Linked DNA regions of Homo sapiens: region 1 is linked to region 2. Evidence: fine-mapped expression QTL. A gene starts in region 2. The other region holds a variant in brackets. All regions are shown on one strand. Distances are from middle to middle. Region 1 holds the start of MIR1303 (microRNA 1303). Region 2 holds the start of MRPL22 (mitochondrial ribosomal protein L22).

What was found.
Region 1: its variant is fine-mapped to the expression of MRPL22 in prefrontal cortex (BrainSeq, PIP 0.95).

The regions. Positions count from the first base shown.
Region 1 is chr5:154,671,354-154,687,427 of GRCh38, reverse strand. MIR1303 (microRNA 1303) reads right to left here and starts at 1,652; the gene lies at 1,567-1,652. It also overlaps a transcript of LARP1 not described here. RefSeq lists silencers at 4,160-4,639, 4,680-4,879. The variant A/T (reference allele first, on the strand shown) is at 6,197.
Region 2 is chr5:154,937,476-154,953,102 of GRCh38, reverse strand. It overlaps MRPL22 (mitochondrial ribosomal protein L22), which reads right to left and starts at 12,030. Exons shown (of 7, transcript NM_014180.4): 1 at 11,965-12,030; 2 at 11,838-11,886; 3 at 2,165-2,282. The coding sequence starts at 11,992. GEMIN5 (gem nuclear organelle associated protein 5) reads left to right here and starts at 14,892. Exons shown (of 28, transcript NM_015465.5): 1 at 14,892-15,135. The coding sequence starts at 14,970. RefSeq lists enhancers at 11,931-12,090, 14,594-14,643, 15,034-15,213, 14,805-15,396.

The DNA of each region.
Region 1 (16,074 bases), 270 kb after region 2:
CCTAGGTGACAGAGTGAGACTCCGTCTCACAAACACACACACACAACACACAAAAGTATAAATACACTGAAAAAAATAAACATAAGGAAATCCACCAACATGTTAACATGTTACATCTGGGTGGGAAGATTACTACAGATTATTATCTTCATCTTTATTTTTCTATGTTCTCCAATTTTTTTTCAAATGCTGCATTATTTTTATAAACAGAAGCAAGCTACAATATTGTAACAGAAATATTGAAGATTATATTTGAAAATATTCAAGGCTAAACAAAAGCAAGTTAGATATCACCTATGTGTCCGCAATCAGAAACCTTTGAGACTAAAATTTAGCCTTTTGGAAGCACCGTCCATCTTCCCCCAGACCCACCCCTGCCTCTTGGCAAAATCACAGCACCATGCTGTGACTGAGGGGTCGGTCTAAGAGAGACAGAGACTGATTTCTCTCTAGGAAAGGCTCATGCAGAGCTCTCTGCTTCCTTGGTTTCCAGAACTTCACCAGCCTTCTTGGCCTGAAGTTCCTTCTTCTGAAGTCAGGCATGGCTCTGCCAAGGGATACTTGGACAGTGATCCATGGGACTGGAGAAGACCCCTGCAATCCCTGCAGTTACCAGGTTACTTAATTAGCTGGCATTTAAGGGTCTGTAGGATCTGAACCAATCTTCCTTACAACTCCCATGTGTGCCAATCAAACAGTCTGTCGGCCATCTCCAAAGCCAGAAAGGGACAGTAATGAGTGAAGAGAGCTGGGTGTGATGCAATTGGGAAAGGTAAGGACTGTGGCAAACTGGAGTAAGCCCACACCTTCAAAACGAACGGCCACTTCTCAGTGCCAGTCTATTGCTACCTGGTGGGACCTTTCGATTTTTCAAGAGAATTGGAAAATCTGGATCTTTATGTGAAATCTCCTGATTTTAAAATAAATATTGGCAGGTAATTCACAAAACATATTTGGCCACTCTGCTGATCACAATTTGTGACTTGTCTTAGGAACACATTGAACTTTTTTCCCTCTGCACCTTTGCTTTTGCTATTCCCAATGCCAAGAACACTCCCCCACCCATCTAAGTCTAATGAACTCCATCTGTTCCGTCAGACCCAGCCAAAACACCACCTCTTCCGGAGCATCCCCGCAGCCAGAAGTGACATCTCCCTCACTGGGGCTGCACCACACATTTAGCTCTGTGCCTGTCTCATCCTATGCCCACAGTTGTTTCAGTAAGAGTCTTAGCTTTCCTGGTACAGAATGAGCTCCTGAAATATCCAGAAAACATTTGTGGAGCACCTGCTATGGTGCAGGAACCGTACTAAGCACTAGTGATACAGCCTAGAACAAGATGGATATGTCTTTGCCTTGATGCAGTACAGTCTAGTGTAGGGGGCAGATTTTAAATAAATAACTCCCTAGATACCTAATCCCAATTGTGATGAGTTTTATGGGGTTAAGAAAGTTTATAAAAGAGACTTAATCCAGGCAAAGGAGGATTAACCGAATCACGAGGTAGCTTGGGGAAGCATTAGCAGTAGGGCTCCCACTTAGGGCTGTACAGTTTACATGCTGCACAAAGCCTGGCAACAGAGCAAGACCCCGTCTCTAAAATTTAAAAAAAAAAAAATTGTAGAGTTGAGGTCTCGCTATGTTGCCCAGCCTGATCTCAAACTCCCGGCCTCAAGTGTTTCTCCCACTTGGCCTCCCAAAGTGTTGGAATTACAGGTGCGAGCCACTGTGCCCGACCCCTTTTTCTAATCTGCACAAAGGCATCGTATAGACTAGCAGAGGCAGCGTTTAGTTCACCCCTATCCAAAGCTGCTTTAAATAAACTTAGAATCTAAGTAGATACGGTGACTTCCCTATGTACATGCAGCCCAAAGAGATGTTCCCTGCTCCCCACTTTCTACGCTAAACCCTTAGACTTCTGAGATCAGGGAAGGCACCCCAAGGAAGTAACATAGGAGCTGAGACTGAAGGATAAGAAGGGGCCAGCCAGCTTGGAATATGAGGAACAGCATGTGCAAGGCCTCTGAGGGGAGAAGGTACCATGGCCAAAGGACCTAATAGGTGGCCGTTGTGGTGGAAGCATGGACAGAGGTAGGAGAGCATTAAGGGGTAGGCTGGGCAGTGACCACCCTGCATGGCTCAGAAGGCCACATTAAGGAGTGCAATTCTTTTTTTTTTTTTTCTGAGATGTTGTCTCACTCTGTCACCCAGGCTGGAGTGCAGTGGCGCGATCTCAGCTCACTGCAACCTCCACCCTCCGGGTTCAAGTGATTCTCCTGCCTCAGCCTCCTTAGTAGCTGGGATTACAGGTGCGCGTCACCATGCCCAGCTAATTTCTGTATTTTCAGTAGAGACGAAGTTTCACCATGTTGGTCAGGCTGGTGTCGAACTGCTGACCTTGTGATCTGCCCACCTCCACCTCACAAAGTGCTGAGATTACAGGCATGAGCCACCGCGCCCAGCCAAGGGGTACAATTCTTATCCTGAAATACCTTCCATATCCCTTCCATATCCCACTCCCTAACCACGTCATTTCTGGGTTTCACTGCCCATGAGAGAGTGCACAATGGTAGAAACTATCTTTACAGAGGGCCTGCCATGAGGCACAGACTGTGCTGGGGTCATACATTCATTCTGCCTTTTTTATGCTCCTAAGGAAGTATTATTTGATTTCAATGGAACAGATGAAAAAATGGAGGCACAGAGAGGATGAGCAGCTGGCCTAAGGTTAGCTGACTGTTAAGGGGTAGGCTGGGATCCACTGTGAAGTCCACTGTGGGACTTCAAACCCCTTCTCTTGGCCGTCATGCAGCAATGGTACCCATGAATAGACCGGAAGCGCAAGGAGTGCACACCCTTGCTACTCAAAGGCAGGAGGGTCTAGGGGCCTGCAACACTGGCATCACCTGGAAGTTTGTCAGAAATGCAGGATCTTGGGTTCGTTCCATCCAGCCCTACTGAATCAGAATCTACAATTTTTTTGTGTGTGTGTGTGAAAGGGTCTCACTGTGTTGCCCAGGCTAGAGTATAGGGGCACAAACACAGCTTACTATAGTCCCCACCTCCTGAGTTCAAGGGATCCTCCTGCCTAAGCCTCCCAAGTAGCTGGCACAGGCCACCACGCCCAACTAATTTTTAATTTTTTTGTAGAGATAGGGATCTCACCATGTTGCCCAGGCTGGTCTCAAATTTCCTGGGCTCAAGCAATTATCCTGCCTTGGCCTCCCAAAGTGCTGGGATTACAGGTGTGAGCCATCGTGCCACGTCAGAATCTACACTTTACAGGAATCATGTACACATTAGGAGCTGAGAAGCACTAGACTAGAGAATAATCCAAGCAAAGTGGCATATTGCCTTTGTAGCCCTTATGCAACAGTGTCTCATAAGCCAGGTTTCCAATGACCCGAAAACAACTTCTTATAACCAAATATACCAGATTGGCCAACTGTTCCATTCATCTATCCACCCTAGTTTTGTCATCTATTTCCACTCCAAGGGAAAGACTGTGAGAAGCTACCATCAACTCCAAAGACGAGGTGCTGTATGCTCCAAATCATCTCCCATTTGAGGTCTACTCTGATCCCCAGATAATTTTCTGGAACACACTTTTCACAAAAGAATTCCCTATGTTAGCCTGCATACCAAAGGAGTCAGAATGGTTTGGTAGAAAAGATTAGTGGGTGAGGAAAAGCAGGGTTCCCCTTCAGCTTTAAGGCCACATGTGACTTTGGGAAATGCCCTACCCTCACTTCCTAATCCCCATGTAAAATATGAATGGGGTGGACTAGACTAGGAATCATTCCATATGAGGCCTGGCAGGAAACACAAAGGAAGTTCAGTGGCCTAGGTGAAACAGTAGGGAGTAGCGGAGACTGTGGCAAACTAGAGGGCGAGCAGGTAGGGAGGGTGCAATGCCCTGACTACACAAAGGTATCCCCACTCAGAAATAGGCTAGAGTTATCATGGGAAATACGTTGACATATATTCTAATTTTTTGAGTTGGGAATCTGATTTTCCAAGAAATGAGTGATGTTTAAGTATTGGCAACTATTAATAGTTAAAACTTCAGAACAAACAAACACAACACTGTGTGAGCCAAATAAATATCAGGTGCCGGCCAGATCTGTCCGTGGGCCGTCAGTTTGACTTGCCTGGCCCAGATGCCACCCTAATGTTAGGTATTAATTTGCATGTGCGGCTGAGAATGCTGCAAAGCGGCTCCTGTAAGGATGGGGGTTGAGGGGTAAGATCTGTGCCTTTCCGGGGCCCGTCGCCCGTCCCCCACCGCGGCCCGGGCCCCTTTCGGTGCCCCCTCCCCAGGCCTCTCCGGGAAAGGGCCCAGACGGTGGTGCCGGGTCGCACGGCGTCGCTTGCTTCACACCCTCCCTACCTGCTCGCCTGCTCTCCCAGCACGGCCGGCAGCGCCGCAGCAGCGATGACTCAGCCTCTGGCGGCGGAGCTGGAGGGAGGCGGAGGGGGCGAGGGGGAGGACGACTGGCAGGGCGGGGTAAAAGGAGGCGGGTGGAATGGAGGGAGGAGGGGAGAAAGAAAGAGGAAAAGGAGAGAGAAGTGGGATGGGGGAGGAGAAAGAGGAAAGGGGGAGAGGAGACGGGGGAGAGGCGGAGGTGGGAGGGGGCAGTTCGAAGCCCCAGCTCCCGCCTCCTCCCGCGGCCGGCTGAGGTTGGGCTGGGCTGGGGGAGGACAGTGGGGGAACAGCGGAGAGGGTAGGGCAGGGGCGGAGAAAGGAGGGTGGCGTGCTGCGCCCCTTCCCCTCCCCCACTTCGAGAGTCCCGTGGGTACACGTGGTTCATTGCCACACCCACGGACCCACCCCTGCCTCTGTGGGATGGGAGGGGCCGGGGAGGGTGCCCGGGAATGCGGCTTCGGACTCTGAACCTTTAGTGAGCGCCTTCCAGCGGAGGCCTGGGGGACTGGGCAGTCAAAAAGGGACAGAGGGGCCGGGCGCGGTGGCTCACGCCTGCAATCCCAGCACTTTGGGAGGCCGAGGCGGCCGGATCACCTGAGGTCAGGAGTTCAAGACCAGCCTGGCCAACATGGCGAAACCCCGTCTCTACTAAAAATACAAAAATTAGCTGGGCGTGGTGGCGCGCGCCTGAAGTCCCAGCTACTTGGGAGGCTGAGGCAGGAGAATCACTTGAACCTGGGAGGCGGAGGCTACAGTGAGGCAAGATCGTGCCACTGCATTCCAGCCTGGGCAACCCTGTCTCAAAAAAAAAAAGGGGGACAGAGAGAGGTGAGGGCTTGCAGGGGAGAAAGCAAATCCACAAGGCGTATCCGCAAGTGGAAATTTAAAGGGAGAAATGAGCCTACTCGATGCATTTTTGCTAGTCTACACAAGTAGCTATAACACAAGGTTGAATTTGGAAGTCACACCAAGGAAGTTTCCTTAGCAATGTTTTGTAATATAAATGATGAATGAATAAAATGTACTATGGGAGTACATCTGTGTGTATAGAAGAGGACAAATGGAATTTTTTTAAATGTCTTTTTGTATGTCTGTTACATATGTGTGTTTGGGTGAATATATAGGAGTGTATGTGTCATTGAATAATGTGTATATATGTATGCCTTATGTATGTAAGCACATTAATAGCTGTATATGAGGTCGTGTGCCAAGAATACATTTCTGTGTATATGGACAGGTGTGTATCTTTATATGCCTAGGTGTTAACTGTATAAGACCTATGGGCTTTCCTGAGTTTGTTTTAAATATGCATATTTATGTGAATTTATGAGTTTGTGAATGTGACAGCATATCCTTGGGGGGTATGTGTGGGGGTTTTTTGTGTGTGCCAGTATTGTATAAATGTGTATGTGTATACGGGACTCCTGTCTGAGATCGTGTTATGCTTGGATATTTGTGTGTGTGCATGTGTATGGTAATACATTTGTGATCAGTCTGTGACCAGGGCTACAGGGCATCTTGAGGTTGCATGTGTGTGTCTGTGTGTATAATTGAGAATGTATGTCTGTTTTTCAGAGTCTTTATGGATATGATTGTGTCTAGCATCTCTGTAGCCACCCTGTCGATCCATTTGTGATAAGGGCTATGTGATTCTTAAGGGTTGGGCTGGTCAAGGCGGCTCCTTGGAGGAAGAGGTTCTTGTGAGGTGGGGACGGTAGACACAGGAAGAAGTTGCATGTGTGCTGGCCCACTGAATAGACCACCCAGAGC[A/T]GCCGGAGGCCAGGCAAGCAAAGTAGGCTGAAACAAGACCAGGGAAAGCGCTGAATGCCAGAATGGGTAATCACGGCCTCTTCTGGCATCTTCCGCCCTCTCAAGCGTTGGATCAGTTTCTCTCATGGCCCTTCTCTGGGTCTACCTGGTCAGTGCTCTTCTGCAGAGTGCACATCCTTGGTAATGAACATGGCAACAATGGTGGAGCATTACTATGAGCCTGCCTGCAGAAAGCACTTAACAGGCAATAGGTCAGCTCTGTGAGGCAGAAATTTGGTATCCCCAGTTTTACAGAGGGGGAGCAGGAGATTAAGCCCTGTTGGTGATGCCCCTGTTGGATTCTGAGGCCCCATGCCCTCTCAACCACTATTGACGTTTTGGGCCAGATAATTCAGCGTTGCGGGTGGCTGTCCTGTGCATTGTAGCATAATTAGCAGCATCCCTCGTGTTTACCCAGTAGATGCCAATAGCACCTCCCTCTCCAGATATGCAAACCAAAATGTCTCTAAACATTTCCAGAAGTCCACTGGGGACAAAATCGTCTGAGATTGAGAGCCACAGCACTACACTGTCCTGCCTCCCCTCATGTAAGTGTTTTCTGAGGGGCTGCAACAACTCCACCTTGTCCAGTGTCTTCAGCTGTCCCTCTTCTTTCACGGTGATCTTCATGACCGTGCAGGTAGCCCCTTGTCTTTGCCACAGTCAACAGAAGGCTTACTAGCCGGGCCACCTTTCCTAGCAACTCAACCTCTCTGTCTCCCAGGCACAGAAGGCACAGGGCTTGGGGCCTGATAGACACCTCTATAGCTCTTATTATTATTTGAATCACAGGAGTTCCCTGGGGTCAGAGCCTGGAGGAGAAGTGCCCCGAACCTGCTGACCCTCTCTGGCCCAGAGCTGTGGACACTGCTGGTTCTGTGAGTTTGTTTTCCTGGTTGAGCAAGAACACCACACGATGGTGTTGGGCCAAAACTGGTCCCATTTTATGCTACTATATCTCCACTGCCCAGGCTGGAGTGCACTGGCATGATCACGGCTCATGGCAGCCTTGACTTTCCGGGCTCAAGGGATCCTCCCACCTCAGCCTCCTGAGTAGCTGCTTACTAGGCACATGCCACCATTCCTGGCTAACTTTTGTATTTTTGGTAGAGATGGGGTTTCACCATGTTGCCCAGGCTGGTCTTGAACTCCTGGGCTCAATCTATCTGCCCTCCTCCACCCCACAAAGTGCGAAGGGATTACAGATGTGAGCCACCGTGTCCAGCCATCTTATGCTGTTGCATCTTGGCAAATGAAATGGCCTGGCTTTCCCCTCTGGCAGACCCTGATTTTAATGAGCCAGTGCTGTGTTGTGACCACGGCAGGAATTCAGGAAGGGCAAGGCAGAGCTGTCAGCAGGGCTCTTGGCATGTCCAAACCCAGGCCTCAGCAGGGCGTCCATGCTGCTGCGGGACCCTGCCACTGTAGCAGCTCAGGGTCCTGGGGAGCAGGTGCTAGAGAGTGTGGTGGCTCTACCACACACACAAGAGGTCCAACACTCCCACTACAGAGAAGACAGACAGATGGTGGTGCTCACAGAGGACTCCATGCCACCGCTGTGTCTGCCACTTGGGAAAGTCTCTCCTCTGGACTGTTCCTTTACTGCATGACCTCACTCTGCCCCTTCTGTTCTCCTCAATCCCTGCAGTGTTCCTAGTGTTTACAGGGCCCTTTGCTCCATTCCTCCTGGGATGCTGCAGAGCAAGGTGGTTAAGGGTGAGGGCTCCTATACCTGATTACGTGAGTCTGTGTAATCTTGGGCAAAGCACCTCACCTCTCTGTGCCTCAGCTTCCTCATTTCTAAAATGGGGAAAAGTAAGAGGCCCTGTCTCTCAAGATTAAATGAGATAGTGCATGTAAAGGATGCTAGCCATGTGGTAAGCGCTTACTAAATAGCAGCCATTATTATTATTATTATTATTAGAGACAGAGTCCCACTCTGTTGCCCAGGCTGGAGTGCAGTGGTGTGATATTGGCTCACTGCAACCTCCACTTCCTGGGTTCAAGCGATTCTCCTGCCCCAGCCTCCCAAGTAGCTGGGATTACAGGCGTATGCCACCACACCTGGCTAATTTTTGTTTGTTTGTTTGTTTAGTAGAGACGGGGTTTCACCATGTTGGCTAGGCTGGTCTTGAACTCCTGACCTCAGGTGTTCCGTCCGCCTGGGCCTCCCAGGGTGCTGGGATTACGCATGTGAGCCACCACACACAGCCTAGTAGCTATCATCATTGCTATTCTTTTTTTTTTTTTTGAGACAGGGACTTGCTGTGTCGCTTAGGCTGGAGTGTAGTGGTGTGATCACTGCTCACTGCAGCCTCAACACTCTGGGCTCAAGGGATCCTCCTGCCTCAGCCTCCCAAGTAGCTGGGACTAGAGGCATGTGCCACCATGCCCAGCTAATTTTTTTTTTTTTTAAAGACAGAGTTTCACTCTTGTCGCCCAGGCTGGAGTGCAATGGCACGATCTCAGCTCACCACCACAACCTCTGCCTCCCAGGTTCAAGGGATTCTCCCACCTCAGCCTCCTGAGTAGCTGGGATTACAGGTATGTGCTACCACGCCCAGCTAATTTTGTATTTTTAGTAGAGACGGGGTTTCTCCATGTTGGTCAGGCTGGTCTTGAACTCCTGACCTCAGATGATCCGCCCGCCTCGGCCTCCCAAAGTGCTGGGATTACAGGCATGAGCCACTGCGCCTGGCCAATTTTTTTTTTTTTTTTTTAATTGTTAGTAGAGATGAGGTCTTGCTCTATTGCCCAGGCTGATCTTGAACTCCTGGGCTCAAGTGATCCTCCTGCCTTGATCTCCCAAAGTGCTGGGATTACAGGCATGAGCCACCACGCCTGTCTATTGCTATTATTCTTGAATAACAATAAAAGGAGAATGAGCTCTTACTAATTGCCAAGCAATGTGCTAAACTCTGGACGATCCTTTTCTTGTTTTGTCTCTTCAACAACTCTATGAGGAAAGTGCTATTATTAGCTCCGTAGCTGGGAAGAGGAAGCTCAGGTACAATGGTGTTAAGTAACTTACCCAGGGTGACAGAGCTAAGAAGCAGCAACTCTGAATCTGAACCAGAGTACTGCCACTGTGAAGTCTCACTATCTGCTCCTCTCCACTGAAAGCAGATTTCACCATAGGAAGGAGGAGCTTCTCTTTAGCTGGTTGTCCTGAATAGATGTCAGAGGCCTAGAAGAAGATTGTGTTGAGAGGACAGAACCCCCACATCCCTGACTAGAGCAGAAGGAGGGGTTTGGGCTCAAGGAAGTGAAGTATTTTTTTCTTTTACAGCTATTGATGAAACCACTTAGCACGGTAGGCTGTGGTCTCATGGACGGACTCCAAAAGGTATCACCAAGCGTTTTTGTTTTTTTTTTTTTGAGACGGAGTCTCGCTTTATCACCCAGGCTGGAGTGCAGTGGCTTGATCTCGGCTCCCTGCAGCCTCCTCCTCCCAGGTTCAAGCGATTCTTCTGCCTCAGCCTCCCTAATAGCTGAGATGATAGGCACGCACCACCACGCTCAGCTAATTTTTTGTATTTTTAGCAGAGACAGTGTTTCACCATGTTGCCAGGCTGGTCTCAAACTCCTGACTTCAAGTGATCCACCACCTCGGCCTCCCAAAGTGTTGGGATTAAAGGCATGAGCCACCACGCCTGGCCTTTTTTTGGTTTTGTTGTTGAGACAGGATCTCATTCTGTCACCCAGGCTGGAGTGCAGTGACATGATCTCAGCTCACTGCAGCCTTGACTTCCTAGGCTCAAGCCATCCTCCCACCTCAGCTCCCAAGTAGCTGGGACTACAGGGCGTGTGCCACCACATCTAGCTACTTTTTGTATTTTGGGTTTTTTTTGTTTTTTTTTTTTTCTGAGACGGAGTTCACTCTTGTTGCCTGGGCTGGAGTGCAATGGCGCGATCTCGGCTCACCACAACCTCTGCCTCCCGCGTTCAAGGGATTCTCCTGCCTCAGCCTCCCTGAGTAGCTGGGATTACAGGCATGTGCCACCACGCCCAGCTAATTTTGTATTTTTAGTAGAGACGGGGTTTCACCATGTTGGTCAGGCTGGTCTCAAACTCCCAACCTCAGGTGATCCACCCACCTCGGCCTCCCAAAGTGCTGGGATTACAGGCGTGAGCCACTGCACCCGGCCTAATTTTTGTATTTTTTGTAGAGATGAAGTTTTGCCACATTGCCCAGGTTGGTCTTGAACTCCTATGCTCAAGCAATCTGCCTGCCTCAGCCTCTGAAAGTGCTGGGATTACAGGTGTGCACCACCACCCCTGGCCTTGCCAAGTTTTTACTAGCACATAAAATTTATTTTTGCTACAATCCAGGCTATATATTGTTCTAGTGCTTTTTGTTGGAATTGGACTGTCAGAATGGTACAAAAAGGCATTCACTTGCTACAAGTCAGAGGATAGATGGGAGGCCTATTCTGGAGTTGATGCAGAAGAAAGGTGGTGTGTTTATCAAGAGCTGTGAGAAATTGTCCAGGTGAGTACATATGAGAGGATGGTTTGTAAGGAAGGGTTAGTTCTTCCAACCCATGTGCCAAAGGGGACAAAGGAGACCATGTGATAATTCATTTTTTAAAAAAATATATTCGAGGCAGTTTTTTTCCTTGTACTGTCATAATATAGTTATTAGTTATCTATTGCTGTGTAGCAAATACCCCAAACTTAATGGCTTAAAACAATACATATGTATTACCTCACAGTTTCAGTGGATCTGGATTTCAGGAGTGATTTAGCTGGGTGCTACTGGCACAGGGTCACTCACGAAGTTGTAACCAAGATGTCAGCCAGGTCTGCAGTCATCTGAAGGCTCGAGTAGGGCTGGAGGATCTGCTTCCAAGATGGTGCACCAACATGACTGTTGGCAGCAGGCCTCAGTTCTGTACCACGTGGACCTTTCTGTTGGACTTCTTTAATGTCCTTATATCATGGAGGTGAGCTTCCTCCAGAGCCAGGGAGAACAAGGTGGAGGCCACATTGTCTTTTATGCCTAGCTTTAGAAGCTACGCACTATTGTTCCTGAATATCCTGTTGGTAACACAGGTCAGCCCTGCTCATTGTGGGGAAGGACCATAGAAGTATGTGAGTACCAGGAGGTGAAGATCATGAGGCCATCTTGGGGGCTGGCTATCACAGGGCTCATCATTGCTGACTTGTTTACTATCATGAAAGTAAGTGGGCTGCAAGTACTGAAAAGTGGGCTGTAAGCACTCAAAAGTTGAGAGCTGCTCACTAAACAATTTTATTTACCTGGATTTGTCTGTGGTGTTCCCTTGGAGGCATGACTTTACAAGTCATGTAACCCAGGATGGGTTGAGTGTGGTGGTTCACGCCTGTAATCCCAACGCTTTGGGAGGTGAAGACAGCTGGATCACTTGAGCTCAGGAGTTCGAGACCAGCCTGGGCAGCATGGTGAAACCCCATCTCTACAAAAAAATACAAAAATTAGCTGGCGCAGTGGTGTGTGCCTGTAGTTCCAGCTACTTGGAGGCTGAGGCAGGAGAATCGCTTGAGCCTGGGAGGCAGAGGTTGCAGTGAGCTGAGATGGTGCCACCGCATTCCAGCCTAGGGAATGGTAGTGAAACCCTGTCTCAAAGTCACCCTGACTCCATCAGAAACAAAGCCCTGCAATCCTATGACAATGAAAGTGTATTACCTGTGCCAGGTGCCAGCAGGGAACAATGGTTAAGAGAGTGAATTTTGCAACCAGACAAAACTGGATTCAAATCTTAACTCTCCTATTCTTGACTTGAGGACTTTGGGCAACTGGCTTAACCTTTCTGAGCCTCAGTATTCTTGTGTGTAAAATGGATTAAGATCAACTTCACAAGGTCATGGGGGAGATGGATTAGAGGATCGCAGAGCTATGATAATGGAAGTCAGGTGCCCAGCCAACGTTGACCTATAGATTTATTATTAATAATGACAACAATAAAGTAATAGCTCACATTTATTGAGCTTCTGTTTTTGCCAGTCTGTGAAGTTTGGAGCAGTTAAGAGCCTTGCTCGCCAGGTATGGTGGCTCACACCTGTAATCCCAGCACTTTGGGGGGCCGAGGCAGGCAGGTCATCTAAGGTTGGGAGTTTAAGACCAGCCTGACCAACGTGGTGAAACCCTGTCTCTACTAAAAATACAAAATTATCCGGGGGTGGTGGTGGGTGCATGCCTGTAATCCCAGCTACTCAGGAGGCTGAGGCAGGAGAATCGCTTGAACCAGAAGATGGAGGTTGCGGTGAGCCAAGATCGCACCATTGCACTCCAGCCTGGGCAACAAGAGCAAAACTCCATCTCAGAAAAAAAAAAAAAAAAAAAAAAAAAAAAAGAGCCTTGCCCAAGACACACAGCTAGGAGAGCTGGGACTCAATTCTGGGTCTGTTTCCAAAGCTAACCTGTTTGATAACTTGCTCTTTTCACTTAACAATGGTCTATCATAACCTACATATTACATTGCCCCACCTTCTTCCTTTCTTCCCCCTTCTTTTAGCTATGTAGCAGTACATGAACGTACCATAATTAGTTAACTGTTCCTCTACTGTTGGATTATTGGTTTCTAATTAACGACAAGGTTTCCGTGAGTATCTTTGTGTCCAGAGCTCACAGTGTGCTATGCTAGGCACTTGATGCGTGTACTTCATTTAATCTTCCACCAGCCCAAGGATGTTCAGCTGGGAAATAACTCACTCAGCCTCTAACTTGTCTAACATAGAATGCCTTTTCAGGACTAAGAATCCCCTGCCTTCTCAATCCTGAAATTTTTCATTCCAATTGGGCCACCAAGGAATATCTTTCTTTCCTCTGCAGCAGGTTTATCTGAGAGACCAGGGAAGTGGGCTTGGAGTCTCCAAACTCAGGTTTAACAAAAGGATGGGCCTTGATAGGTTTTCACCAGGCTCATGGCAGCTTTGACTAACCAGACATGAACCTGTATCAGTCAGGATGGGCTGGGTTGTGCTGCAGTAACAACCCTCAAGTGAGTGGCTTCAAACACGCATTGTGGGACTGTTGTGTGCTCTGTTTTGTGCTGTCTTTACTCCAGGTCCAAGTTGATAGAGCAGCCACCAACTTGAACATTGCCAGTTGTCATTCCTGGAGCCAAGAGAAAATGTAGTAAATTGCACGTTGCTCTTAAAACATCCACCTGGAAGTGACACATGTTATTTCCTCTGATTTTTTTTTTTTTTTTTTTTTTTTTTTTGACAAAGCACATCACAGAGCTACACTTAACTCTGAAGAGACAGGGAAGTTCATCCTACCATGTACCCAGAATGTGGAGAACTGGAATATTTGATAAACAATACTAATGACCACCAAAAGCCTTGTCCTTTGCTAATCATTAAAAAAAAAATTGTCCACCAATTCTAACGACATCTTGGAACAATTAAGTCCAGGCGTGGCTTAACATTCTGTCCTGGAGGAAAGACCCTTCCATCTAAAACCCCTCTTGCCCACATCCTGAAGCCAGCTCGCCCTGAATCATGGGACCCTGGAGATGAGGAGAACAGAGGAGAGCAAGGTCAGGGAGATGGCTGGTGGATTCCACCGGTGACCATGGGCAGAGCTCTGAATTCTGAATTGTATTAGCCCACAGAGTAACTATGCATCTGTGTTGTGGGGTAGTGGAAAGGCCATCTGACTCCTGTGTGACCTTGGACAAGTCATCTGGAAAGATCCTAAATGCATCTCAAAGGGGAATGCAGGCTGGGCGCAATGGCTCACGCCTGTAATCCCAGCACTTTGGGAGGCTGAGGTGGGCAGATCACAAGGTCAAGAGATCGAGACCATCCTGGCCAACATATTGAAACCCCGTCTCTACTAAAAATATAAAAATTAGGTGGACATGGTGGCAAGCGCCTGTAGTCCCAGCTACTCAGGGTGCTGAGGCAGGAGAATCGCTTGAACCCGGGAGGCGGAGATTGCAGTGAGCTGAGATCACGCCACTGCACTGCAGCCTGGCGACACAGCGAGACTCCATCTCAAAAAAAGAAAAAATAATAATAATAATAAATAAGACTGAGGTGGGCGGATCACGAAGTCAGGAGTTCGAGACCAGCCTAGCCAAGACCCATCTCTACTAAAAATACAAAAAAATTAGCCGGGAGTGGTAGTACATGCCTGTAGTCCCAGGTACTCAGGAGGCTGAGGCAGGAGAATCGTTTGAACCTGGGAGGCGGAGGTTGCAGTGAGCTGAAATCATGCCACTGCACTCCAGCCTGGGTGACAGAGTGAGACTTCATCTCAAAAAATAAATAAATAAAAATAAATAAATAAATATAATAAATAGGCCAGGCATAGTGGCTGATGCCTGTAATCCCAGCATTTTAGGAGGCTAAGGTGGGCAGATCGCCTGAGGGCAGGAGTTCAAGACCAGCCTCGCCAAAAAGGTGAAACCCCATCTCCACTAAAAATACAAAAATTAGCCAGGCGTGGGATCACGTACCTGTAATTCCAGCTACTCGGGAGGCTGAGGCAGGAGAATTGCTTGATCCTGGGAGGCAGAGGTTGCAGTGAGCTGAGATCGTACCACTGCACTCCAGCCTAGGCAACAGAGTGAGACTCTGTCTCAAAAATAATAAATAAATAAATAAATAAATAAATAAAGCAAGCAAGCAGGCGTGGTGGCTCACACCTATAATCCTAGCTCTTTGGGAGGCTGAGGTGGGCAGATCACTTGATGTCAGGAGTTTGAGACCAGCCTGGCCAACATGGTGAAACCCCATCTCTACTAAAAATACAAAAAATTTAGCCAGGGTTGGTGGTGTATGCCTGTAATCCCAGCTACTTGGGAGGCTGAGGCATGAGAATCACTTGAATCCGGGAGGCAGAGGTTGTGGTGAGCTGAGATGGTGCCACTGCACACCAGCCTGGGCGACAGAGCAAGACCCTGACTCATAATAATAATAATAATAATATAAATAAAATGAGGTGGTTGGACAAGAATGGTAGATTGTTATTGGACAACAAGACTTCAGAGACCAATGAAATGTCAGGGAAAAAGAAATTGGGAACTGACATAAGGGAAGTCCATTTTATTTATTTAATTTAACTTAATTTAATTTAATTTAATTTTATTTTATTTTTTGAGACGGAGTCTCACTCCATTGCCCAGGCTGGAGTGCAGTGGCACAACCTCAGCTCACTGCAACCTCTGCCTTCCAGGTTCAAGTAATTCTCCCACCTTAGCCTCCCCAGTAGCTGGGACTACAGGTGTGCACCACCATGCCTGGCTCATTTTTGTATTTTTTGGTAGAGACGGAGTTTCACCATGTTGGCCAGGCTGGTCTCGAATTCCTGACCTCAGGTGATCTGTCTGCCTCGGCCTCCCAAAGTTCTGGGATTACAGGGGTGAGCCACCAAACCCAGCCAATTGTGCCTGGTCTTTTTTTTTTTTTTTTTTTGAGACAGAGTCTTGCTCTGTCGCCCAGGCTGGAGTGCAGTGGCGCAATTTTGGCTCACTGCAAGCTCCGCCTCCCAGGTTCACGCCATTCTCCTGCCTCAGCCTCCCAAGTAGCTGGGACTACAGGTGCGCCCACTACCACAGCCGGCTAATTTTTGTATTTTTAGTAGAGACGGGGTTTCACCGTGTTAGCCAGGATGGTCTCGATCTCCTGACCTCGTGATCCACCCACCTCGGCCTCCCAAAGTGCTGGGATTACAGGCGTGAGCCACCGCGCCTGGCCTTGTGCCCGGTCTTAATAATCAATACTTATCAGGCACTTACTATGTGCCAAGCCTTTTGCTAACTGCTTTACCGGTCTCTTTCCACTTAATTCTCATCACAACCTTGTGAAGCAGAAACTTTTATTGCTCCATTTCACAGATGTGGAAG
Region 2 (15,627 bases):
ACAGGCATGAACCACCACACCCAGCCTTCACTGTCTTCATATGAAGCCCCATATAAGATAAAATCTACATAAGAATCTATATTCTTTGGAAATTGGTGCTAGCTAAACTACGAAGTTAGTCTTAAAAATATGAGGAGTAGCCTAGAACAACTCTACATTGGTAACATTCATTTTTATTTACTGCTACGGGTTTTGCTCACTATCCCATCCACTGTTATTTATTGACTATATATTCTAATGCAGAAGATCAGAATTAGGTAGAATGGTAGATATTATCTGGCCCTCTTTTCAGCTAGAGATAAAACTAATTTTAATAATGGCTGCAGCTGGCAGATTGGAAATTCTAAGGGACATTGTATATTATAGCGCAGTATTATGAACTATATGGCCAGTGAATAAATTATTTCTGGTAAGTTAGGTATTTATGAAGGGTATCGGTATTCCCAGTCATAACAGGTACAACTGATGTACCAATATTAAATTACTAAATACTATTTAAAGTCAGAAAATGTTCATATTTCCCAGATGTCATAATTTGTCCCCCAAAGGATTACTGAAACAAAATCTGTGCAAAATAGAGAAATTAAGGTTTTCCAAAGTACCTATATCAAATCAAATTAAATGTCTTCCCACAGGCACTTGTATAAGAAGGATAAATGATACAAAAAAGTTAATCAAAATAGTTTCATTAAATATAACACACAACAAATTACTGTATTGATAGTGTTCATCATTTGCTAGAGTTAAGCAGATGACATACTACTAACTATTTGAATTTTGCCACTTGGGATATATCCTAAAGTACATTTTTTTAGTATCTAAAGATACTAAACAAAACAAACACATAACAAAATTGTGCTGTTATAGATTCTGGACTTGACAAATACTGTTGTAATTTATTTCCAATTAATACCTGATTTCAGGCCGGGCACGATGGCTCACGCCTGTAATCCCAGCACTTTGGGAGGCCGAGGCAGGCGGATCATGAGGTCAGGAGATCGAGACCATCCTGGCTAACACGATGAAACCCCGTCTCTACTAAAAATACAAAAAATTAGCCGGGATGGTGGCAGGCGCCTGTAGTCCCAGCTAGTCGGGAGGCTGAGACAGGAGAATGGCGTGAACCCGGGAGGCAGAGTTTGCAGTAAGCCAAGATTGCACCACTGCACTCCAGCCTGGGCGACAGAGGGAGACTCCATCTCAAAAAAAAAAAAAAAAAATACGTGATTTCAAAGAGCTCAGGTAAGAAGCAAAAAAAGTTCATTAGTTACAGAAAAATTTTTATTTATGATATTTGTGCAATTGTGTAACGTTTCATTTAGTCAATTTTGGTTAATTACAAAATGGAGACCAGCCTGGCCAACATGGTGAAACCCCATCTCTACTAAAAATACAAAAATTAGCTGGTCATCGTGGCGGGCACCTGTAATCCCAGCTACTCCGGAGGCTCAGGCAGAAGAATCCCTTGAACCCGGGAGGCGAAGGCTGCAGTGAGTCAAGATCGTGCCATTGCACTCCAGCTGGGTGACAGAGCAAGACTCTGTCTCAAAAATAATAATAATAATAAAATAAAATAAACAAAATGGAGTCAATACTTAATAGCCTATACTGACAAATCTTTCAAGTTGTGATGTCATGACAAAATATGAAAGTTGAAAAGTTATTTGTTTATTCTGTGCAGATAACGATAAGATAAATCTCCAGTAGGAACCCAATGATTAAGTTCAAACTTTAGGTTCAAATTGCAAAACAAACAAACAAACAAACAAACAAAAAACAGTGTGTCTATATTCAAATATATAACACTGGAAAATCATATACATAATTTAAACATTGGCCAATAGTTTAAGTCATTCTTGCCAACTCCACATGCTCCATCATTAAGAGCTCATCAGCAAGCCTCTCAGAGTCAAAAATCAGTATGTCTTAAACTATTAGCTTAGTTTTAGAGTTAAGGTCCCTATCCAGGAGGTTAAGTAAAGACAAATAAGTAAAGAATAACAATCTTTTTCAACTATTGAAGAGATAAATCTAGTACATCTTCTCTGTCAATTAGAGTGAATGGTTGTATAATTTTTTTAACACAGAATAATAAATCATTACTAATCACTTAAGAGTAAGAGCACTACCACAATTAAGAGATTAGTTCTACCCACGAACTTACTGCTGGTCTCCGAGGTTCTCCAGGCAGTTGTGGAGGATAAACAATTTTATTCTTCTTCTCCCATTTTCGAGAAATGTCAAGAGAAGCACTTGTGTGGATATATGATTGAGGTAAAACACTGTGAAATGAAAGAAGCCTATAAAACAACAGACACTTAGGGGACCTTTCTGTAGAGTTTACATATCTTTTGAACCACTTCAGCTCCATTTTGATGAAAACAATTTAAGGATCACAACTGGAAATATTCTAGAGGTATTCATTAATAGAGACTACTTTTAAACACAACAAAGAGACAGTTTATTAGAGGCTAACAGGAGAGAAAGTAAACGCACATAAGTCAAACCGTTAATAGATATTAACCCAAGATTTCTTGCCCTGACTGGCCAATAACACTGTCTTCTATAAGTCACCCACTCCTAAGAAAGATTTAGAGAAGACATAATGAGCTCTCTGATCTGACCTGTAAGATTGCCCAACTTTGTTGAGTAACTAAGACAAAAACACAAAACAATTAGAAGACAATATAAAACCACATAACTAAAATATGGGAAACAGCAGAGGATTTCAGAGGTGACTTCAGGTGAATCTTGAACTTCCTAATTGATATGGCTCGGCTCTGTGTCCCACCCAAATCTCATCTTCAATTGTAATCCATACATGTTGAGGGAGGGACCTGGTGGGAGGTGATTAGATCGCTGGGCAGTTTCCCCCATGCTGTTCTCGTGATAGTGAGGGAGTTCTCATGAGATCTGATGGTTTAAAAGTGGCAGTTTCCCTGCACTGTCTCTCTCTCCTGCTGCCTTGTGAAAAAGTTGCCTGCTTCCCCTTCACCTTCCCCTATGATTCTAAGTCTCCTGAGGCATCCCCAGCCACGCAGAACTGTGAGTCAATCAAACCTTGTTGGTTTATGAGTTACCCAGTCTCAGGTAGTATCTTTATAGCAGTGTGAAATGGACTAATACACTAATTATCAGAGGAATGGGGCAACGACATATATCATCTATGCAGAGGTACAGAGTTGAGAAATAAGGGGAGGTCTGACTGAGTCAGAGAATTTGTTAAGTATTGGAAAGGTCATTGAGGCTAGAGTGGTTGTCTTTGAATGCTAAACTAATAGGCTGAGACTTGATGATGAAGATCCCAAATTCACTATTCCTTGACCTCTTCCCCCACACTTTAACTGCTTTAATAATATACAACTAGTCATTCTCCCTCTCCCATTTTCCCCAGCATCCGCTACTCCCCTATATCACTAAATAAAATCACTCTTGAATGGTGTTCTAGAGTTTATCTTCAACTTCCCAATGATTTTCATCCTGCCAGAGCTAGTCACCAAATCTTACAGATAAAATAAAGATTCCCCTGAAATCGTTCTCAAATGCTTTACCTCTTCCCCATTCTAATTGCCACCATCCTATATAGCAATAGCCTCTAGATTGATTTCTCTTCCATCAACTTGCCCAATTCCAATCCATCTTTCTCTGCTTGAGTACCAAATGAGCTACCCTTCTATAATTCAGAGCTACTCATGTCATCCTCCAGCTTAAAAACGTCTATTGAAATAAGCAAATGAATAGTTATGTAATATTCTAATGCTATCCTTTTTTTTCAGTGTCACTGACTACTGGGATTCTTGGTATGGAAATAAGCAGAAAAGGTTCAGCCAAAATCCAATAAGTACTAGATCTCTCCACTGAAGAGGTGTAGAAGCAATGAACAATCTAGTAGCAATTAGTGCCCCTACTTCCCAGATTACGGTCTTGAAATACCATTTCCTATTGAAGAGAACCAAAACTTCTGAGAGAAATGGCTGATTGCAGATCTCAAGCAGATAACATACAAAATGAGCCCAGAACATCTTGTCATATCAGAAAGCAAAGAAGCCATCAAAGATTACCAAGGTCATGTCAAAGGCACTCAGGAGCCAACTTGTGGATGCCCAACAAGCCAAAGATGGGACAAGCCAAGCATTAATCAGGACAATAATTGTAGTGGGTTGAAACACATCAAATATGTTTAAAGCCATAAGTTCATAATAAAACCAGGAAAAATACAAATTAATTACCATTAGAAAATGCTAGTGAGCCAACTTGTTATTTTGAAAACTGGTGAATGAAGAGAAAGAATGAAGAAAAAGACAAGACTTATCCTGTCTTTCCTATACAAACTGTACCATTAAGTTTCCAAGTAGTAGATGAGGAAAAATTTGACTTGTATAAAGTTAGTAATGAAGGAATAGCAAATTATTATAGCATCATCTTATAATCCTTAATAAACTAATGGATAAAGGAGGCATTATGTGCCTCCTTATGGAAGAACACACCACCCACCATCCACAAAGTAGTCTTTCCTGCCCAAAATGAAACTGGGGGCTCAAGCCCCTAGATTCAAAATAGGAAACACAGAGAAAAGACAACATGTTACGTAATATCATGGGGATGCACTCGGTAAAATCCAAGGTATAGAAAACGCTACAAAACAACCAATTGTCTCCAACAAATAAATTACAAGAAAAAAAAGAGAGGGTTGAATAAAAAACCTACAGAGTAAGAGATTTAACAGAAATATCAATTAGTTTCAATGTGTGAACTATTATAAAGTATGACAGTTACGAAGCCATTGGAAGTTTAAATATCAAATGGATATTTAATGCTTTTTAATGAGATAATAGTAAAATATTTATGAAAATGATACAGTGGGGGGAGTGTTTCAAAATATGATGAGGGAGAGTACAGGTTATAAATAACATTGGCCATAAGTAGTAAGTGTTGAAGTTGGGTGACGGATACATGGAGGTTCATCAAACTGTCTACTTTTGTATATGTCTGGGCATATCCAAATAAAAAGTTAACACAGCAAACTTTGGTATTTCCCTACTGCCCACAATACGAAGTCCAGACTCTTTAGCGAGACATAGAAGGCCTTTCATAATCTAGACCCAATCTGCCCTTATAGCCTAGCCACATAGATGTTCATTGTTCCCTGAACAAGCCTTTATTCAAATTGTTTTCTCGTCTTATTATCTCCTGAATGAAATGCTTATCCTGTTTTAAGTTCTAGCTCAAATGTCACCTCAATGTGAAACATCACCTAATCCCTTATCTGATCATGATTCTCGCGTTGTCTTAATACTTTGTTCTTGCCAGCCATACAGCAATGACTTAGACCACTGTACTATCGTAAGTGGCTATAATAGAATGAGTTATTGTACTAAGTGTACAGATGTTGAGCATTTAAAGGGCAAGTCCGACTTTCTTTGTATTCTAGCACCAAGAACAATGTCTGGTACGTGGATACTGCGTAAACATTTAACTCAGACTTATATACTCAAAGTGGTTGTATATTGGCATATTCTCATACAAATATGCAACTTGGATGATTTACTTGGCAAACAAAACCTTTGTTTTTAGTCTTCAAGCCATTTAGACCAAAGACTCAAACAAATCTATTCTAGTGTATCATTTTTACCCCAAGTTCACTATCTCCTATCCTAATATCAAGATTAGTGCCATCAAAATACCTAACAAAATCAATACCTTTGCCATCCACATTTAGGTTCCAATGTCTTAACTGAAAAGCACAAAATTAGGATACATGATGTATGAAGGCCTATTTTGCTAAAATAAGCCGAGTGGTGACAGCTGAGGCTACAGAGTCGAGCAGACCTTGGTCTAAATCCTAACTCTAATTTACTAGGTGAATGGCCTTGGGGAAGTCATATAATTTTCTGGGTCTCAGTTTTCCCATCAGTAAATAGACTAATAATAATTACCTCATAGCCTTCTTAAGAAGCTCAAATGCAAGTAAAATACTTAACCTGACACTTAAAAGGGCTCAATAAATTTTAGATATTATTACTTGTAGAATGAGGAAAATAATACTTACTTAATACTGTTGATGGATTAATAATTTAGTGCATCCTACAATGTCTAGCCCATGATAAACACTGATGGCTAGTGTTATTTTTAAATTAGGCCCTTTGGCCAAGTATGGTGGCTCACGCCTGCAATACCAGCACTTTGGGAGGCCACGATAGGAGGACTGTTTGAGGCCAGGAGTTCAAGACCAGCCTGGGCAACATAGCAAGGCCTTGCCTCTGTTTTGTTTATTTTATTTTGAGACAGAGTTTCACTCTTGTCACCCAGGCTGGAATGCAATGGTGCGATCTCAGCTCACTGCAACCTCCGCCTCCTGGATTCAAACGATTCTCCTGCCTCAGCCTCCCAAGTAGCTGGGATTACAGGGACGCACCACCGCACCCCACACCTGGCTAATTTTTGTATTTTTAGTAGAGACGGGGTTTCACCATGTTGGCCAGGCTGGTCTTGAACTCCTGACCTCAGGTGATCCACCCATCTCAGCCTCCCAAAGTGCTAGGATTACAGGTGTGAGCCACCACACCCGTGTTTCTTTTTTTAAGGGCATAAAAAATAAAACAAAGTTAGGCCCTTTGAACAGTTAATCTCTCCTGTCCCCAGCCCCCAAATAAGTCCTGTGAACTGTAAGCTTTAAATACACAATTTCAAAGTTTTTTCTCAAGTTTATAATCATAAACGTTTATGGTTCTATGTAGTTGTAATTAGCGAGTAGGGTACACTATGTTTGTCACCTCTTTGGACCTTGGTTTCTTTGTCTGTGAAAAGAGGAATTAGACTACATCATCTATAAGGCCTCTCCTAACCTTAATTCTATCTCTAATCTCATCACCAACAGCATGACAGAAACATGAACCCCTTTGCTACAAACCAATCTGAAAGATTTCTTGAGTCAGGCCCATACCTGCTGTACCCGCCTAGCACAGTACCTTGCGCTCTTCAAATCTTCAATACATATTTGGTGAATTAAATATGTTGCTTCATAAATTAAACATACTATGAATTAATAATGTCAAAGCTTTCTGAATTCTTATAATACTTTCAGGACTCAAATAATTCATGAACTGAATTATCAAGCAAAGACCAAACTACTATAATCAAATTAAATTAAAGTATTATTCCAAATGGGGTTCTTAATTTAGAAGCACAGAATATCAAATCAAAAGTTCCTATGTGCCCTCTCCTGGCCAATTGCTGGAATAACACTCAATTAAAACAAAATGAAGCAACCTTAAAACAGAAAATACAGACAAATTCTAATTCTAATTATCAGTCCTCATCTGAGAGTGACCTAAGTATCTCTGGTCACTCACTCTTCCTTGAGACACTTTCTTTAATTGGGTTCCAGGACACTTGGGGTTTTCTTCTCCCCTCTCTGGCCACTCCCCCACAGTCTCCTTTGTTGTTTCCTTGTCTCCCTCCCTGGTCTGTAATATTGGCTGCCTTAGGCAGGAATCAATCCTCGGACTCTTTCTATCTACACTCACTCCCTTGGTGAAGTCAACCAGCTTTGCAGCTTTAAACATTATCCATGCATTGATGACTCCCAAATGTACATCCGTTCCCTGAACTCTATAAACTCATATACCCAATTGCCTACTCGTATCTCTACTTGGATGCTTACAACAGCTCAGATTTAACAAACCCAAAAGTGACCTACTAATATTCTCCCCAAACCTGCTCCTCTGGAAGTCTTCCTAGCTCAGTAAGTGGTTAACTCTACCCTTCCAGTTGCTCAGGTCATAAACTTTGGTGTCACCCTTCTTTCTCACACCTCCCATCCAATGCATCAACAAGATCTGTCAGGTGTGGTTAACATACTGCCAGAATCCAACCATTCACTTACCTTCACGGCCACCCTAATCCAAGCCACCATGATCTCATACCTGAAATAGCCAACGGTCTCTGCTTCCATCCTTGCTCCCCATCCCCACCCCAGTCTATTCTCAACACAGCAGCCAGAAAGAACCACTCATAAACATAAGTCAGATCATATAACTCCATGCTCAAAACCTTACAACAGTTTCCCATCTTGCTCAGAATAAAAGCCAAAGTATTTACAAAAAATAATAAGGCTCTATATGATTTATGACTGCCCCTTCCTCTCTGACCTCATCTCCTATCACTATCCCTCTCCTTTTTGTCATTGTTCCTGACACCAGATATGGTTCCTTGGAGCTGTTGCACTTACTATTCTATCTGCACAGAATGCTGTTTGTTCAGATGTTAGCACAGCATGCTTCCTCATTTCCTTCAAATCTTTACTCAAAGATTATCTTTTAGTGAGGCCTTCCCTATCTAAAACTACAAGTTCCTCTCTCAAACACACATACTTCTTATTCTCAATCTCTGCTTTATTTTCTCATAAGCAGATGTCACTATCTAATATACTCTATATTTTACTTATTTTGCTTATTTGCCCCCCTTACTATATTGTACACCCCACAATGGCAAGGGATTATTGTCTGTTCCTGTTCCCTGCAAAATCCTCAGTGCTAGAATAGTTCCCAGCTCAGAGCAGGCACTAAATACATATTTGTAGAATCAATGAAAGAATACAGAGACAGGTAAGGTAAGAGGACTGAGTGTAAATAACTATGCCAAAATTTTACACATGGTTGGAAACTGAGGAAAGCTTAAGAGGATATGCCCCCATCTAAAGGGTGGTACAGACAGGCTTGGTGGCTCACGTCTGTAATCCCAGAGACTCGGGAGCCTGAGGTGGGAAGATCACTTGAGCCCAAGAGTGCGAGACCAGCCTGTACAACATAGTGAGACTCTGTCTCCTAAAAAAAAATATTTTTTTGGCTGGGCGTGGTGGCTCATGCCTGTAATCCCAGCACTTTGGGAGGCCAAAGCGGGCGGATCGTTTGAGCCTAGGAGTTTGAGACCAGCTTGGCCAACATGGTGAAACCCCATCTCTACTAAAAATACAAAACTTAGCCAGGTATGGCGGCCTGCACCTGTAGTCCCAGAAAATATTTTGTTTAGATCCTCACTTTGACATTTAACTGTGTAACCTTCAGTAAGTCACAAAACTTCTCAAATGTATGCATCAGTAAAATAGGAGACTTGGAATTCAAAAACTGAAAACTGTCAGTCAGCTAACAAATATAGCCTACAGAGTAATCCCAGCACTTTGGGAGACTGAGGTGGGAGATTACTTAAGCCCAGGAGTTTCAGACCAGCCGGGCAATATAACAGGACTTTGTCTCTACTAAAACTCAAAAAAAAGTCAGGTGTAGTAGTGCACGCCTGTGATCCCAGCTGCTTGGGAGGCTGAGTTGGGAAGATGGCTTGAATCGAGGCTGCAGTGAGCTATGATCATGATACCGCACTCCAGCCTGGGTGACACAGCAAAACGCTGTCTTTAAAAAAAAAAAAATTTTAATATCTATATATATATGTGTGTGTATATACATGTATGTATGTGTATATATGTATATATATGTGTATATATGTATATATGTGCATATATGTGTGTATATATATATATATCCTGCAGAAATGTTTTATTTGGTCAGCAGCAGTTTTCTTAACCTAATTCAATGTTTTTAGATGAGGAATACACTCTACTGACCACCACAGGCCCTCCCACTCTCATTTTACATAGACAACTTCCCTTAGTTTATTTATTTCTAGTCTGGGGCCTATATGCAATTAAGTTTCCTGGCGGCTCATGCCTGTAATCCCTCCAGGCCAAGGCAGGAGGATCACTTGAGCCCAGGAGTTAGAGACCAGCCTGAGCAACACAGCAAGACCCTAAAAATTAGCCAGGTGTGATGGCATGCACCTGTAGTTCTAGCTACTTAGGAAGCTGAGGTGGGAGCCCGGGAGTTTGAGGCTGCAGTGAGCTATGATCACAGCACTGCACTTCAGCCTAGGCACAGAGCGAGACCGTGTCTCCAAAAAAAAAAGGAAAAAAAAGTTTCTCATCACTGAATCAGATTATATGCTAAAATTTTACATGGTTATCATGAACATTATTTATACCTTTCTACTTAGTTTTCTTATGGTCATTTTCCCCACTAGAAAATCCAAAATAAGGATTCACAAAATTATGTAATAACTTCAGAATTGCAAATAGCCTTAGAGATTATCTAGCAAAATCAAACACTCTTGTATCATGACATAGAGGAAAAGACTAAAGGCAAACTGCTTAAGTTTCTTGCTCAGAGCTTCTTAATACAAGTTGGTGCAAGACAATTCAAATCAACATCAAAATACTTGCCTGTGTAAGACCTTATGCTGGAGGTACAACAATAAATAAATGTCCCTACTTCTCCAAGATACACAAGCTAGTAAAGGGCACATACACATATACATGAAGTCATCATAGAAGGCACACATGCTAAAAGGAAGGAAAAACTAATTTCTTTCCGTTTTAGAGAAACCAGTGAAAACTTCCTGAAGGGAAAACATCTGAACAGAGGTTTGAATAATGGGTAGGACTGCTGTTATAGACAAGATGTGAGGGCATAGTAGGAAAAGCCAAGAAGCAAGTAAGTGCAAAGTATATTCAGAAAAAGTAAGTAAATCAGCATGGTTGGGGGAAGAGTGATAGAAGATTATCTAAGAAGAGTACAGACAAATCCTAAGAGCTACTACTTCCTATTTTCTTCTTTAGCCCACCTCTTTATCCCCCTCGGACCCAAAAACTTAGAAAAGGGTTAAATATAATTGGGAACTCAGTAATAATTTATAATAATAAAAACATTAATGGCAACTAGAATTCAGAGTGGGATTATCACATGCCATAAACATACTAAATACTTCATATGCATTATCTTGTTTGAATTTCCTTTTTAAAATCTACTAGAGCTACATAGATGGCATGTGCCTGTAATCCCAGTACTTCAGGAGGCTGAGGCAAGAGAATTGTTTCAGCCCTTAAGTTTGAGACCAGCATGGGCAACATAGCAACACTTCATCTAAAAAAATAAATAAATAAAAATTAAAAAATTTTTTAAATCCTAAGAGATAGGTACTAACATAACGCTCATATCATAAAAGTGATAACTGAAGCTTATTAAGAATAAGTAACTTTTCCAAGATCACAGTTAAAAAATGGATTCATATACAACTCATCTGTCTGCAAAGCCTATGAACTAAACCAAAATCAATGCTAACAAATGGACAGACCAGAAAATTTACAATCAGATTATCAATTTTCAAATACCGATTTTTTATTTTGGGGAGAAATACAGCGACTACTTACCCTAACCTTTAATGAATGCTTTTGTCCTAAGGCTACAGAATGCTCTGGTATAAAGCTTCAAAATTTCCTACAACTGAGTGGCCTTAGGCAAGTTATTTTACGTTTGGGGACTTCAATTTCCTTGTCTGAAAAACGGGTATAGCAGAACCTACTCGTAGAATGTTATGAGAGTGAGTTAAAGCATATAAACCGCTAAACACAATGTCAGGTACGACGTAAAGCAGAGTTGTCCACAACACGGTCCCTGCCCATGTAAGCAAGTAATCAGAGAGGTAACTTGAAAAGTTGGACGCTTCCATATGGAGATGGAATAGTCTAACCTTGTCCAGAAAGATCACAGTAGACGTTCGGAAATCGCATTTACAATCGCCCTTGGGTTATGGGTAATCCTGATCCCTGTACAGTTTATGCAATAAGGTGGAGAAAAAATAGAGTGACAAAGCAGAGACTCGGGCTGTCTCATTCGCCTCAGTAACCCCAGAGCCTAAAACACAGTTAGGCACGGAGGCGCTCAGTTACCAACTGGCAGAATACTAAAGATGCCTTGGGCCCTTCCGAAACTCCGAAGCGAGAGACTCACCCCAAGGCCAGCTTCCCCCGGCTCCTCAGGTTATGTATCCATAACGCACCTGCAACATCAACACAAGCCGTCAACTCAGATTCCATCTCGACTCCCTTCTGTCGCTTAACCACTAAGAAATCCTTACCCAACTGTCCCAGTACTGCCGCCGCCATCTTTCGCCCTCCCGCTACGGAAGCCGCCGAGTTCAAGCGCCTTCTGGACAGCACGCATGCGCAATACTCTGGATTTCCTGTGGGGCTCTCCCACAAGCAGTACTTACACCCCAGGTGCCGTCACGAAGATCGCAAGCACTGGGCCGGCGCTCGAGGTGTGGTCAGGCGAACCTGGCTTGGGAATGAATTAATTAATAAAGGCCGAAAGCACGTGGGCTTCCGAAAATTCACCTGGATTCAGAAAAACTAAAGTCCCAACTCACAAACTAGAAAGGAGTAGGGGAACAGAATCCGTGAACAAGCCACCTAATCCGGTGGTCCTCAGTTTTCTTATCAGAAATGACTAACCTTAGGGCACAAGCTTGTTGTAAAGATCAGTTGAAATAGTGTGAAAGCTATTTTATTTCATTTTATTGAAACAGGGTCTCTCTCTCGCTTAGGCTGGAGTGTGGTAGCAATGACCTAGTCTCACTGCAGCCTCGACCCCGGGCTCAAGCCACCCTCTTACCTCAGCCTCCCAAGTAGCTGTGACTACAGGCGCACATCACCACGCCCGGCTAATTTTTGTATTTTTTATAGATAAGGAGTTTCCCCAAATTGCCCAGGCTGATCTCGAATTCCTGGGCTCAAGCAATCTGCCCTCCTCGGCCTCCCAAAGTGCTAGGATTAGAGGTATGAGCCACGAAACCTAGCCTAAAATCTCTTTTAAAGAGCAAATAGTTCAAATATGATGTATGCTGTCCTAATCCCTACTAATCTGGTTGACCTTCAAGAATGAGTTTATATTCATCTGGCATTTACTGCCTTATGTCAGGCAGGTATTTCACTAAATCTCATTTATTCCTCACAGCAATCCAACAAGGCATGGATTATCATTTTCCTTCTTCAAATGAGGAAACATATTTAGGATATGTTAAAGTCTCTCAACTAACAACTGGCAAACCAGTGATCAATCTACGACTAGGTGCCTCCAAATTTGTGCCCCTAGACGCCTTCAAATATATGTATTTGACCCCTCTGTATTAGAATAACAGGTAGTTCAGATTGCGGTTTGCTACCTATGCAGGAATGTCAGATACCCAATGCAAACAAGCAACACACGAGTAGTGCAGAATCTGAGCATTTTAGCATTTTTGAGTTGAAAGGAAACTTTCTTCCACACCATTTACCACATACAGCTTCCTTCACACAGCTGGCCCTCAATCAAGCAAATCAAGAGTCACTCCATTTGCTTCTCCTTCATCTTTGAGTACCCAGAACCCAGAGCCAGAATTTCCACCCAGTTGCAGAAACTGTTCTTTCCCTTTTTAATTCCAGATTCGTACTTTCATATTTTTGTTTGTTTTGTTTTTTTGAGACAGGGTCTCACTCTATTGCCCAGGCTTGAGTGCAGTGGCTCGATCACAGCTCACACCAGCCTGTCTCCCGGACTCCATATTGTAATGCCCAACCTTGTTTTTACTAACCCTGTTTTTAGACTCTCCCTTTTTCCTCTGATCACCTAGCCTTGTTTCCACTTGAATTGACTCTTGCTTAGCTAAGAGAGCCAGACAGACTCCATCTTGGCTCTTTCACTGGCAGCCCCTTCCTCAAGAACTTAACTTGTGCAAGCTGACTCCCAGCACATCCAAGATGCAATTAACTGATAAGATACTGTGGCGAGCAATATCCGCAATTCCCAGGAATTCGTCTGATTGATAGCACCCAAAGCCCCCAGTCTATCACCTTGTAATAAATAGTCTTAAAGCCCCTGCACCTGGAACTGTTTACTTTCCTGTAACCATTTATCCTTTTAACTTTTTGCCTACTTTATTTCTGTAAAATTGTTTTAACTAGACTCCCCTCCCCTTTCTAAACCAAAGTATAAAAGAAAATCTAGCCTCTTCTTCCGGCTGAGAGAACTTTGAGCGTTAGCCATCTCTTGGCCACCGGCTAAACAAATGGACTCTTAATTCGTCTCAAAGTGTGGCGTTTTCTCTAACTCACTCAGGTACAACAATATTTTTGTTAAGTGGCCTCTTGTGCATATCTTTTTTTGTTTTGTTTTGTTTTTATTTGAGATGGAGTCTCGCAATGTCGCCCAGGCTGGAGTGCAGTGGCGCAATCTCTGCTCACTGCAACTTCCGCCTCCCAGGTTCAAGCGATTCTCCTGCCTCAGCCTCCCTAGTATTTGTTGTCTAGGGATTGTTGCATTTTACTTTTTTTTTTTTTTTGAGATGGAGTCTCGCTGTGTGGCCAGGCTAGAGTGCAGTGGCGTGATCTCCGCTCACAGCAACTTCCGCCTCCCGGGTTCAAGCGATTCTCCTGCCTCAGCCTCCCGAGCAGCTGGGATTACAGGCGCCTGCCACCACACCCGGCTTATTTTATTATTTTATTTTATTTTTGTTTTTTAATAGAGACGAGGTTTCACTATGCTGACCAGGCCGGTCTTTTAACTCCTGACCTCGTGATCCTCCCGCCTCGGCCTCCCAAAGTGCTGGGATTACAGGCGTGAGCCACCGCACCCGGCCTCTTGTGCATATCTTTAAAACACCTCCACAACTAGCAAAGTGCCCTGGCACATAGCGCTCAAAAAACGTTGGACGGGATAGTGGTTGAACAGCTCCAAATAATAAACTGGTAGCCTGGGGCGGTGGTTCCACTAGTCTAATCCTCTAATTTTGTGCCTTTCTGTGGGAAGTGAGAATGCTTAACCTCGGGGCTGTGCTCAGGCAGCACCTGACCCTAGCCAGGGTTGGGGCGGACCTCCTACCGCGGGCTAGGTACTGAGGGCCAGTGCAGCACGCGTGGTCCCGCCCTTCCCAGCCCGGCGGTAGCGGGAACGCAACGCGCGGTGCTGGCTGGGCCTCGACGCGCACCGTAGCGACTGCCCGAGAAGGCGGGGCTCGGAGTTCACCCCGCCCCGCTCCCTACCTAAGGCGTGAGGCTACGAGCGGTCGGCTGTGGCAGCTTCTCTTGTCTCTGACGGCTTGTAGTTATGGGGCAGGAGCCGCGGACGCTGCCGCCCTCCCCCAACTGGTACTGCGCCCGCTGCAGCGATGCCGTGCCCGGGGGCCTCTTTGGCTTCGCCGCGCGGACCTCCGTCTTCCTTGTCCGCGTGGGCCCGGGCGCAGGCGAGAGTCCAGGGACACCCCCGTTTCGAGGTAACTCACCACCCTTGGGCCCGAGACTTACTGCCCTTTGTACGCTCCCCAGGGGCGCCGAGTGGACGACTCCACCCCGTTTTCTACAGCTAGGGAAACTGAGGCCCAGGCTGGGAGGAGAGGCAGCCCACAGTCACTAAGCTGAGTTGCTTCTGGTCTCCTAATGAGCTACACCATGCTGTGGCCGAGCGGTCCCGCCTCCTGGAGCTTCCACGTGGGGCCGCTTGCTTACTGAAAAGTTAGCCTTGTATAGTCTCGGCCATTTATATGGCTCCCCTGCCCAGCCTGGTGCGCGCCAGCCCCCCGGGAGCCTTCCTGGGGTTGGGGGCTAACCACAGCTGCAGGCCCTAAGCAAGATCCTGCAACGTGTGGCATTCCTTACTGTAAGATGAATGGGTTGAACCAGATGCTTTCAGGCTCCAAACTAGGCTTTGATTGTGCCTTAGGATATGACATGCCAGGTGATTTATTCTGGCCACATCTAAATAAGAG